2 separate regions of the Homo sapiens genome follow, and region 1 is linked to region 2. A link means that fine-mapping ties the variant in region 2 to the expression of a gene that starts in the linked region. Tissue or cell type: whole blood. Region 2 holds a variant in brackets; the other region holds the start of a gene. All regions are shown on one strand. Distances are from middle to middle.

Evidence for each region. PIP is the estimated chance that this variant, and not a neighbour inherited with it, causes the effect.
Region 1: RPL29 starts here. The variant in region 2 is fine-mapped to the expression of RPL29 in whole blood (TOPMed, PIP above 0.99).

What each region holds. Positions count from the first base shown.
Region 1 is chr3:51,992,492-51,998,369 of GRCh38, forward strand. It overlaps RPL29 (ribosomal protein L29), which reads right to left and starts at 3,404. Exons shown (of 4, transcript NM_000992.3): 1 at 3,366-3,404; 2 at 2,934-2,978; 3 at 2,551-2,615; 4 at 1,031-1,635. The coding sequence starts at 2,970. The coding sequence ends at 1,258. RefSeq lists enhancers at 863-1,595, 3,349-3,508.
Region 2 is chr3:51,879,186-51,885,063 of GRCh38, forward strand. No RefSeq gene overlaps it. Among named protein-coding and RNA genes, the nearest start is that of IQCF5, 6.5 kb to the left of the region's middle. The variant T/G (reference allele first, on the strand shown) is at 2,451.

The sequences.
Region 1 (5,878 bases), 110 kb after region 2:
CTGGTTGGGCAATTGAAACCTCCTAGGGCCCCACATGGACTGCCTAGATCAAATGCTACCCCCACCCCTTCGTAGGTTCATTATCTTCAATATTTTCTCACCCGTGAAACAAAGATAATCATAATACCTACTTCAGAAGTAGGGGATCACATGCCATGGGCTGCACCTGCAGCTGTAGCATAACAGCACCCCTTTAGGAGTTTCTAAAGTGTCCGAGGTTGGACCAAGGCTGGTTTTGAGGATTAAGTGCGGCCAGGAAGTGCCCACGTGGTGCCTTCTATAGGCAGCCTCCACAAAGGCTTACTATTACTTCAGTACTTTCTTCACTGACTGCTGAGGATAAAGACCTCCATGTGAAGCAGCTGACCCAGGGGCACAGAAGGGTCAGAACCAGTCACGGGAGTAAGGCAGTGCCACTACCACCTGCCTTCCTGGGTCCCTAGCTGTTGGGGGACTAACATAGCCCAGAGCAGTGGATGCTGACCAGGTGCACCAAAAGAGCCCAAATCTGGGACACCTCAGGCCAGAGTGCAGAGCTGCTCAGCGGGGCCCCTTCCCCTCCCTTGCAGTAAGCTTTAAGACCTCATGAGGATGTTTAAGATTTCTCCCTTTGGGCCAGGAGCACTGGCTCACGCCTGTAATCCCAGCACTTTGGGAGGCCGAGGCAGGCAGATCACAAGGTCAGGAGATCAAGACCATCCTGGCTAACACAGTGAAACCCCATCTCTACTAAAAATACAAAAACAAAATTAGCCGGGTGTAGTGGCAGGCACCTGTAGTCCCAGCTACTTGGGAGGCTGAGGCAGGAGAATGGTGTGAACCTGGGAGGCGGAGCTTGCAGTGAGCCGAGATGGCACCACTGCACTCCAGCCTGGGTGACAGAGCACGATTCTGTCTCAAAAAAAAAAAAAAAAATTTCTCCCTTTGCTCGGCAGGTTACACAGTCCAGCAAGCTATGTGCCCGAGCTTCCCAAAAGCCCCCAATCATTTCTCATTCATTAGGTCCTCCTCTTGCACTTCAGGGCCCCATCTCCTGACTCCCACCCACACCCCACCATCCAGACCCATGTCTTCTCCCACACCAACAGATGGAGCAACCAAACCCATCCCCAGGATCATAGACAGAGGCTAACAAATCCTGCCTCAGGTTTATTTGTACAAATAGCACAGGAGGACCCCAGCCCCATGCAGATGGTAGCCCAGGGGCGGGGGTGGGGGGTCGCACCAGTCCTTCTGTCCTCATGTTGGCAGAGATATCTACTCTGAAGCCTTTGTAGGGGCCTGGGTACGTTTGGGAGCCTGAGCTGGAACTGAAGCTGGGGCTGCAGCCTGGGCCTTGGTTTGATCCTTGGCCTTGGCCTTGGCCTTGGCCTTTGGCCGGCACAGCCTGAGCCCCTTGGCAATACGGGCACGAGCACGCTTCCCAAGCTTGGGGTGGGCAATGTAGGCAAGTCGATCGAGCTTGCGGCTGACACCCTTTGGGATCTTGGGCTTAACCTCCTTGGGCTTTACGAGGGCCTTGATAGCCTCGGCACGTGCACTCATGGCCTTGGCATTGTTGGCCTGCATCTTCTTTAGGCCCTTTTTGTTGTGCTTCTTGGCAAAGCGCATGTTCCTCAGGAACTTGGGGTCCACCTGAAAAGCAGGAAAGGTACAGGTGGCAGCATGTGGGTCCCCAAGTCTCTCCCTGCTGCCCCTCTCCATAGGGGTACCCAGCATTCTAAAGACAGCATCAAGTCAACCTCAAATGTGGAAATACCCAACCTCTTGAAACTATTTCCAGAGAAAGTGTACCACCACCCCAGGGAGCCAATACGCCACCTGGGTAATGCTGTGCAGACCTCCTTCAAGAACAAAATTACAAGCTGCTTTGCTGCCCTGTCTGCCAAGGTTGTGGGGCTTCAACTTCCTACAGCAGGGGTTCGACCAAGTTTTTTCCTGACATCCCCTCAGGGACACCCCCTCCCCTCTTTAGAAGAAGGTGTCAATTAAATACCAAGTCTGGTCCAAAAGACTTATAGCCAAGGTGGGATATGGGGAAACTGAGGCTCAGAGTTTGTGATTCACTCCACGGAACAGAGAGCAAAAGTAAAGGGAAGGAACAGACTGGGGACATGCTCAGCTCTCCCCTAGACCCTCCAGCCTTCTCAGCTAATCCTTAGAACCCCCTGACACAGGAAGAGAAGCTGACCCCAACTCCAGCACTGGGTCAGATGGAGGTCATAAGGCTGGTCAGTGTGGGAATGTGCCCTGCACGCACTCAGACAAGGCCACTCCTTACCCTAAGTGCCACTGCCAAGCAAGGGAGATAGCCAAACTGCCCTCAGGAGGCAGGTTACACCCTGACCAGAGGGTTACACTTCAGGCTGTGGAGACCAAGGAAAGCTTTATTATGGGTCTGGTAGGGTAGAAAAAGGAATTGCAGGCTTTGGGTGGGCCAGTTAGGCTGTGCTCAGGCAGAAGCCAAAGCTAGAGAAAAACTACATGAGAGGCCTTGACTGTGCACCTGGAACCAAGAAAAGACACTTCCATGTGATTCAGTGCACTCACCCCCTTAAGAGATTCGTATCTTTGTGATCGGGGTTTCTTGATACCATTTCTGTGCCATTTTCGGGCTGTGGGAGAAAAAAAGGGAATTAAGCCAACAAAGAACTTTCCTCTAATAAGACCACCCAACATCACAGCTGGCAAGTCTGGGAGAACCAACACTTCCTACAGCAGCTACACTTGAGATATGGGAAACCCTTACTACTAAATGCAAAACACTCTGTATCTCAAGTAGATCTCTAAACCTATAAACCCTAAAGTTATTACTGGGTGAAATCAATCAGCCTCAGGCCCACAATGGAAACGTGCCCCTTCATCTCTGTCCCAGTTTGCCTGAACCAGTCCTTGCCAGGGTCTGGGATGTAGGCAGGGCCCAAAAAACTTACACTGGTTGTGTGTGGTGTGGTTCTTGGACTTGGCCATGTCTGCACCTGGAAGACAAAAGTGGAGATCAGGGTTAAGGGCTCGCCAGGCTGGGCCACCTCTGCCCCCCCCATTCTGGTCAGAATGAGCCTGCAGGCAGAGAATGTGCAGCCTCCACGAGTCTCGGCTTACTCTGCACGACCAAACGCCAGTCCTGGCCTCCCAAACCCAGGTAATGATGCCCTGAAATCAACTCCTTACCCCCGGAAAGCTGCATTCCCCAATAAAGTGGCTTTCCCTGCCATCCCCCTCCTAGGACCTAGAAGCACCATTCCCACCCCGCAGCTTTTGCTCCCGACAGACACACGGTCGGTCACCAGTCCTCTCCGCAGCCCGCGCCCCGCCGCCACCCGTAAGTCGCGGATGGCATCGGATGCCGCGCGGCCAACACTCACCATAAGCCGCGGCTCCCGAAGCGCCTAGAACCGGAAGAGAAAGGGGCTGCGGTGCAGCACGGGAAATAGGGTCAACAACGCCGGAAAGTACTACTGGAAAAGCTTCCCCAGGCTCCGCGAAGAAAAGTTCCGAAGCCCGGAAGAACGCAAGCCAGACGTGGAGGCGGTGCTACGAGCTTGCCTCCGCCCCCTTCAGGCTGCCTCCTCCCTTCTCTGTTTCTCCAGGACCTGTCTCTTAAGTCTTATTCAAGATACTGAAAAAGAAAGGAGTCCTTGAGGGATGTTGTTGGGCAAGAAGATCTGTGTTCTTTTTCTTTTTTTTTTTTTTTGAGACGGAGTTTCGCTCTTCCACCGAGGCTGGAGGGCAGTGGCACAATCTCGGCCCACTGCAACCTCCGCCTTCCGGTTTCAAGCGATTCTCTTGCCTCAGCCTCCCGAGTAGCTGGGATTACAGGCGCCCACCACCACGCCCGGCTAATTTTTACATTTTTAGTAGAGACGGGGTTTCACCATGTTGGCCAGGCTGGTCTCGAACTCCTGACCTCGCGATCCGCTCGCCTCTGTCCCCCAAAGTGCTGGGATTACAGGCGTGAGCCACCGCACCTGGCCGATCTGTGTTCTTAAAAGCACCCCTGTAATCCCAGCACTTTGGGAGGCTGAGGTGGGCGGATCACGAGGTCAGGAGTTCCAGACCAGCCTGGACAACATGGTGAAACCCCATCTCTACTAAAAATCCAAAAAAAAAAAAAAAAAAAAAAAAAAAATTCACGGGGCGTGGTGGCACGTGCCTGTAATCCCAGCTACTCTGGAGGCTGAGGCAGGAGAATTGCTTGAATCTGGGAGGTGGAGGTTGCAGTGAGCCAAGATCGCACCATTGCACTCCAGCCTGGGCTACAGGGCGAGACTCTGTCTCAAAAAAAAAAAAGAAAAGCACGCCTGACTCTTTCGTGGAGAAGGAGCAGAGGGGAGGAAGGAGAGAGGGCTGCCTGGACCTGAGGGAGGACAGTGGGAATGCAGAGGAGTGGACAAAGAAAGAGTACTGGACTTGGGACACAGAAGATGAGGGAGAAAAAGGAGGCAAGGATAGCCCCTATGTCTTTGGCTTGACAACTGGGTGAATGGTGGGCTGTTTACAGAGATGGAAGATTGAGTGGGGAGCAGGGGCTTTGTTTGTTTTGTTTTGAGGGGGAATGATGAGCCAGATATTTTTGTTGGATGCATTAAATGTGAGATGCCTGTTGGACATCAGAATTGAGAAATTGTTGCCTCTAACAACTCTGTTGCCTTCTCCACCTCTTCCCCCTATAGTTCATTTTCCACACGGCAGTGGGGCTTGGGGACTTGTTTTAAGATACAAATCAGATCCTGTCCCTTAAATCTGCAAGGACATCCCCTTGCATTGAAGATCAATTCTTTACCCACTTGACCCTGACAACCTCTGTCATTTACTTCTCTCCAAACGCATTGCCTTTCTTTCCTGCCAACCACAAATGTGTGTTCTGCCTCAGGACCTTTGCACTTGCTATCCCAGCCACCTGGACTGCCCTTCTCCCTGCTTTTTGGATGGTGTGCTCTTTCCTATAGAGGCCTCCCTGGACTCCATTATCTAAAATAGAGAACCACTGCCTCATCTCACCAGTGATTCTGTGTCCTCTCATGGTTTCCTTTCTTTTCTATTCTTTTTTTTTTTTTCTTTTTTTTAGACAGTCTCACTCTGTCTCCCAGGCTGGAGTGCAGTGGTGCGATCTCAGCTCACTGCAACCTCTGCCTCCCGGGTTCAAGCGATTCTCCTGCCTCAGCCTCCTGAGTAGCTGGGATTACGGGCGCACACCACCACTCCCAGCTAATTTTTAAAGAATTATTTTTAGTAGAGACGGGTTTTCACCATGTTGGCCAGGCTGGTGTTGAACTCCTGACCTCAGGTGGTCTGCCCGCCTCGGCCTCCCAAAGTGCTGGGATTACAGGCGTAAGCCACCGTGCCCGGCCATGGTTTGCTTTCTTTATAGAACTTTCCCAGACTCTAATTGCATTGTTTACTTAGTTGTGTATGTGTCCATTATCATAGGAGCCCAGAGTTTGGGACTGGTTTGATCACCTTCATTTTCCCACTGCCTAACTCAGCATAATGTAGATAGAGCAAGAGCTTAATAAACACATGCCCAGTGAACGTTCCTTGACAAGCCAGGTTCGTGGAGTGACAGACGCATACTGCAGAGGTTTAGGGAGTGAAGCGGAAAGGAGGTTGTGGAGGCAGGACATGTGGATGACTCATTACCAAAGCATTCCTGAGAAAGGGGAGAGAATTCTGACAGGTGTGAGTTGGGAGAATGAAAAGCAGGCTTATATACTGATGGATGATCTGGTGCCAAGAAAGAAACAGCTGAGCCCAGAGGAGAGTGTCTCTGCAGGAATAAAGTCCCTGTGGGGTGCTGAGCACAGGTAGAGAACCTGGTGGGCAAAGACAGGGGCTACAGGAGGTGGGGGTGGTGTGATGCCTGACAGCAAGTCAGGAC
Region 2 (5,878 bases):
TCTTTCTTTCTTTCCTCTTTTTTTATTTTTATTTTGTGACAGGGTCTCGCTCTGTCACACAGGGTAGGCTACAGTAATGTGATCTCAGCTCACTGCAATTTCCGCTTCCTGGGTTCAAGTGATTCTCATGCCTCAGCCTCTCAAGTAGCTGCGATTAAAGGTGTCCACCACCACGCCCAGCTAATTTTTGTATGTTTAGTAGAGACGGGGTTTCACCATGTTGGCCAGGCTGGTCTTGAACTCCTGACCTCAAGTGACCCGCTCACCTTGGCCTCCCAAAGTGCTGGGATTAGAGGTGTGAGCCACCGTACCCAGCCTTATAGTATTTTCTTATAGCAGCCTGGACAAACTAAGACAGGGGACTAGAACAACAGAAGTTTAATTGGCTCACAGTTCTGGAGGTTAGAAACCCAAAATCAATGTGTCAGCAAGGCCATGCTCCTGAAACCTGTAGGAAAAGGACCTTTCCTTTCCTCTTCCTAGCTTTGGGGGATGTGCTGGCATCCCCCATGGTGTTCCATGGCATGTAGACACATCGCTCCAATCCTCTGTCTTCACATGGCATTCTCCCTGTGTCTTCACATATTCTTCCCCCTGTGCACATCTGTGCCTGTGTCCAACTTTCCCCTTAATATGAGGACACTAATCATATCAGATTAGGGCCCACCCAATGACTTCATCTTATTGACTACATCTGCAAAAGCTCTATTTCCAAATAAGGTCACTTTTTGAGGTATTGAGGGTTAGGACTTCAACATATCTTTTAGGAGGGATACACTTCAACCTATAACACCAACCACAAGCCAGTGATTGGCTGCAGGATTCCCCTTAGGAGAGGACATAATCTTGGTCAAATCTCTTCCCTATGGCCAAAAACAATTCCCAATGGATGACAGCAGTGACCGAGCAGCAGCCAATATTCCCAAGAGATGTGGGATGAGTCACCAGCTATGAAGAAAGGATCCACTACATCTGCAAATCCACTGCAGCCCAACCCTTTATGCCACTCATATCTACTTGCTTCCCATAGTAAATGTTCACCATTTAAAAATAACGATTCTGGTTGGTCTTGTCTCCTGGGAAAACTTAAAAGAGAAGAGTTATGTCTTTGCTATTGTGAATAGTGCTGCAATAAACATACATATGCATGTGTCTTTATGATAGAATGATTTATATTCCTTACAACCTAAATGCCCATCATTGGTAGACTGAGAAAATGTGGTACATACATATACACCATGGAATACTATGCAGCCATAAAAAAGAATGAGATTATGTCTTTTGCAGGAACATGGATGGAGCTGGAGTCCATTATCCTTAGCAAACTAACACAAAACTGAAAACCAAATACCACATGTCCTCACTCATAAGTGGGAGCTAAATGGTGAGAACACATGGACACATAGAGGGGAACAACAGATGCTGGGGCCTATTGGAGGGTGGATGGTGGGAGGAGGGAGAAGATCAAGAAAAATAACTTATGGGTAATAGGCTTATTACCTGGGTAACAAAATGTACAAGAAACCCCAATAACACAAGTTTACTTATGTTTAATAAACCCGCATGTGTACTCCTGAAGAAAAAAGAAAAGGGTCAAAAGGACAAGTTACAGGCCCATCATTTACTTTGAGACCATCAGTCACACACCTTTTCCCCTTCATCCACTACCCTTTCTAGATTCCTTTCCTGTTTGACTTGCATCTCTGCTGTCTACACAGGTTGCCAGTAATGGGAAGGGAAGTGGGTGCAGTGGTGATCCAGACCCTCATCCCTGGCTATAATTCTCTGGCTATAATTCTCAGGCTATGATTGCTGTATGGGTTAATCTACCATTACACCTAGGCAGCGAAGCACCAAGAAATTTTCCAGTGAATCATCCAAGCCACATTCATAGTCTTTCCTGCTCACCCCCACCTAGTGTAGCAGCAGTGCATCTTCTCCTAATGATCAGTGTTAATTATTCCTGCCAACAGAGTGACTCCTTTCATTATAGAGTGACTTCTTGTCTCTTGGCATAAGGAGGATAAAGTGACCAGGTCACAGCCATAGCTTTATGTTTAGTGAGACTCTTACTGTGACCCCTGATAAATGTCTTTCCTCCCTAGAATCTAGTACCTCCAGTCAGATGGAGCCTGAAGTTACAGGGACAGAATGCATAAATTCCCAAGTGAATAACTTGAGGCGTAGTCACAGGTCCACTATCATTCCACATATTGGTTCCTGTTAGGGGCTCAGCATTGTGTAATGGACATTGACTTGGGGCATGGTTGGGCATTCTACAACTGGTAGGTCAATACAGCCCACTGCCTGCCTGTTTTTGTACATCCTGCAAAGAATATTTGTACATTTTGCAGTGATTGGAAAAACTCAAAGAATATTATTTCATGACACATGAAAATTATACAAAATTCAAATTTCTGTGTCTATAAAGTTTTATTGGAACACTACCA[T/G]GCTTATTTGCTTATATATTGTCTATAGCCACATTTGCACTACAATGACAGAGTTAAATATTTGTTGAAGGGGACCATACATGGCACTCTCCTCATTTCCCCTGCTGCTCAGCCCACAAAAATCACAGAGGTGCAGTTATAGCTAAACAGTGTTCTGTGTGCCACATATACTGCTGTACTGTGACCTATTTTTTAATTACCAGTGCATGCCCATCACATCAAAATAAGAAGAAAAGACAAAAGCAGACTTTAAATGTCGCACTTTTAAGACAATGGCAAAGCATTGTGTCCATTATGCAATGACACTATAGCTATGCTAAAAGAACACGATGTTATCCATCAACATTACCAGACTAAGCACTCCACAATATTCTTAACTTGCAAGAAGTTAATAATCATCAAAGTTAAACATTTTAAGTGGCATATCTCATCACAGTAGAATTTCTTTACAAAAACTAAAAAATCAAAATGAGACTGCAAGCAAAATAGGTTACCAAGTTGCTCATTTGTTAGCCAAGCAGGGAAAGGTTATTTTTATTACCAGTAGTGAGTTAATTAAATCATATTTGATTGCAACAGCTGAAGAAATGTGTCCAGAGAAAATAAACATCATTAGCCTTTTTTTTTTTTTTTTTTTTTGAGGCTGACTGTAGCTCTGTTACCCAGGCTGGCGTGCAGTGGTGTGATCTCGGCTCAGTGCAACCTCCACCTCCCAAGTTCAAGCAATTCTCCTGACTCAGCCTCCCGAGTAGCTGGGATTACAGGCATGTGCCACCACACCTGGCTAATTTTGTATTTTTAGTAGAGACGGGGTTTCACCATGTTGGCCAGGCTGGTCTTGAACTCCTGACCTCAGGTGATCCGCCCATCTCAGCCTCCTGAATGCTGGGATTACAGATGTGAGCCACCACACCCAGCCCATTGTTAGTCTCTCAATGAGAATAACTGCTCAAAAAGTCAAAGACATGAGTAACAATATCAATAGCCAATTAAACAACAAGGCAAATGATTTCAAGTGGTTTTTCTTGGCTCTTAATGAGTTGACAGATGTACCAATACGGCTTGGCTGTTGCTTATTGAAGGGTAACTGCCAAGTTTGAAGTGACAGAAATTAACCTCTATGTGTATGAAACAAACATGGATGAGAATATTTGTTGAAGAAATTGAGAAAATGCTAATTCAACACAGCCTGAAATGGAATCTGCCAAGATGTGATAAATCTGATAGTAGTGAAAATATGTGTGAGGCCGAACAAAGGCTTAGTTGAAAAAACAAAGTTTATGAAAATGTAGGTGCTTAAAGCCTATGGTTATTCATTGTATCATTCATCTGTAGGTACTTTGTGGAAAACATTGGAATCAATCCTGTTACTGAACCAGTAGTGTCAATGGTAGACTTCACATGGCATCATTGACTCAACCATCATCAGTTCCATGAACTTTTTTTAGAAATAGAAGCTGAATTTGCTGACTTGCCCAACCACACAGCAGTTCCATAGCTTAGCAATGGTAAGGTTTTACTGAGAACTTTAAAGTTAAAGGTCGAGATTGAAATTTTTCTGAATGAGAAAAACTGCCTTTAACTACTATTATCCAGCACTGAATAGCACTAGAAATAAGTTTTTGCTGCAGTCTTTATGTTCCTTAATGAATTAAACCTGAAGTTAAAGGGAAAAACAAAACTTATACATAATATCTATACTATGGTAAAGTCAAGTTGGCAACAATGTTGAATCACAAGTAATGTTAAGCTGCTCTAAGTACTTCCCGAGCTGTCAAAAGTTAAAACATGAAGTGAGATATCCATTCCCACACAAATTTGCAGGGGGTATCTTTTCTGAACTCAAACTGCAGTTCCAGCAGCACGTGCATTTCAGACTTCTATGCAAGTACAAGGGGAATTTCAACATTTCTAAATATATTTATTTAAGCAATTGAGTAGTGACCACCTGAACTTCAGCTGGAAGTAGTTAATCAACAATGTAATGACATGCGTACAGGCAAATGTCAAAAGAAGAATCTAATAGAACTCTTATAAGTATCTCCCAAGTGAAGAATATTCTCAATCAAAGTCATATGTTCATGGATTCTACATTAGCTCATTTTTCCACTGCTATAAAGAAATACCTGAGACTGGGTAACTTATAAAGAAAAGAGGTCTAATTGGCTCATGATTCTTCAGGCTGTACAGGAAGCATGGCAGCATCTGCTTGGCTTCTGGGGAGACCTCAGGAAACTTAACAATCATGGCAGAAGATGAAAAGGAAGCTGGCACTTCACATGGCTGGAGCAGGAGGAAGGGTCGCAGGGAGGAGGCGGGGGAGGTGCTACACTTTCAAACAACCAGATCTCATGGGAACTCACTATCACAGGAACAGCACCAAGGGGATGGTGTTAAACCCTCCATGAAGGACCACCCCCATGCTCCAATCACTTCCCACCAGGCCCCACCTCCAACATTGAGAATTACAGTTCAACATGAGATTTGGTGGGGATACAGATCCAAACCATATCAGATTCATATTAGTATTTGGCAGTACCAAATATTTTACATAGTGCCTATACGTGTAAAAAGACATTGCAAAGATGAAATATATAAAATTCATCACATATAAGCATGTGCAACTGATTTTGATGACAGGAAACACTAACTTTCAGCACTGATTAAACTAAACATGGTCCTTCTGCCCACCCCCAAAAATGCATTGTTTTCATTAGTCCACCTGTATTACAAAACTTACTCAATTTTTATTATATCTTTAATTTCATCAATAAAAATTTGTGGAAACTTGTTTTCTCTCTTGCTATATAACTACGTATACACGTCATATCATCAATTTTGCCTCTCAGCCCATGAAGCTGGAAATGTTTACTATGTATCTAATCCTTTACTGGAAAAGTTTACTAACTCGTTTCTCTAATGGCTAATGGTGATGAGCATCTTTTCATGTGCTTAGTTGGTATCCGTATGTCTTCTTAGTAATGCGTCTGCTTAAGTCTTTGGCCATATTTTAATGGGCTGTTTATTACTGTATTCACTGAGGTTCTCCAGAGAAACAGAACCAATAGGAGGTAGAGATAGAAACAGATTTATCATGGGATTGGCTTACTGCAACTATGGAGGCTGAGAAGTCTCACAATCTGCTCTCTGAAAGCTGGAGAACCAGGAAAGCTGGTGATGTAATTTGGCTGGAGTTGGAAGGGTGGGAAAGGGAGGACTGCCCTCTGGTGCAAGTCCCAAAGTCGAAAGCCAGAGAACCAGGAGCTCTGTAGGAGAAGGTGAATGTCCCAGCTCAAGAAAAGAGAGTGTATTCACACTTCTTCCACCTTTTTGTTCTATTTAGGCTCTCAACAAATTGGATACTGGCCACCACATTGGTGAGGGCAACCTCATTGACCCAGCCTACCAATTTCAATGCTAATCTCTTC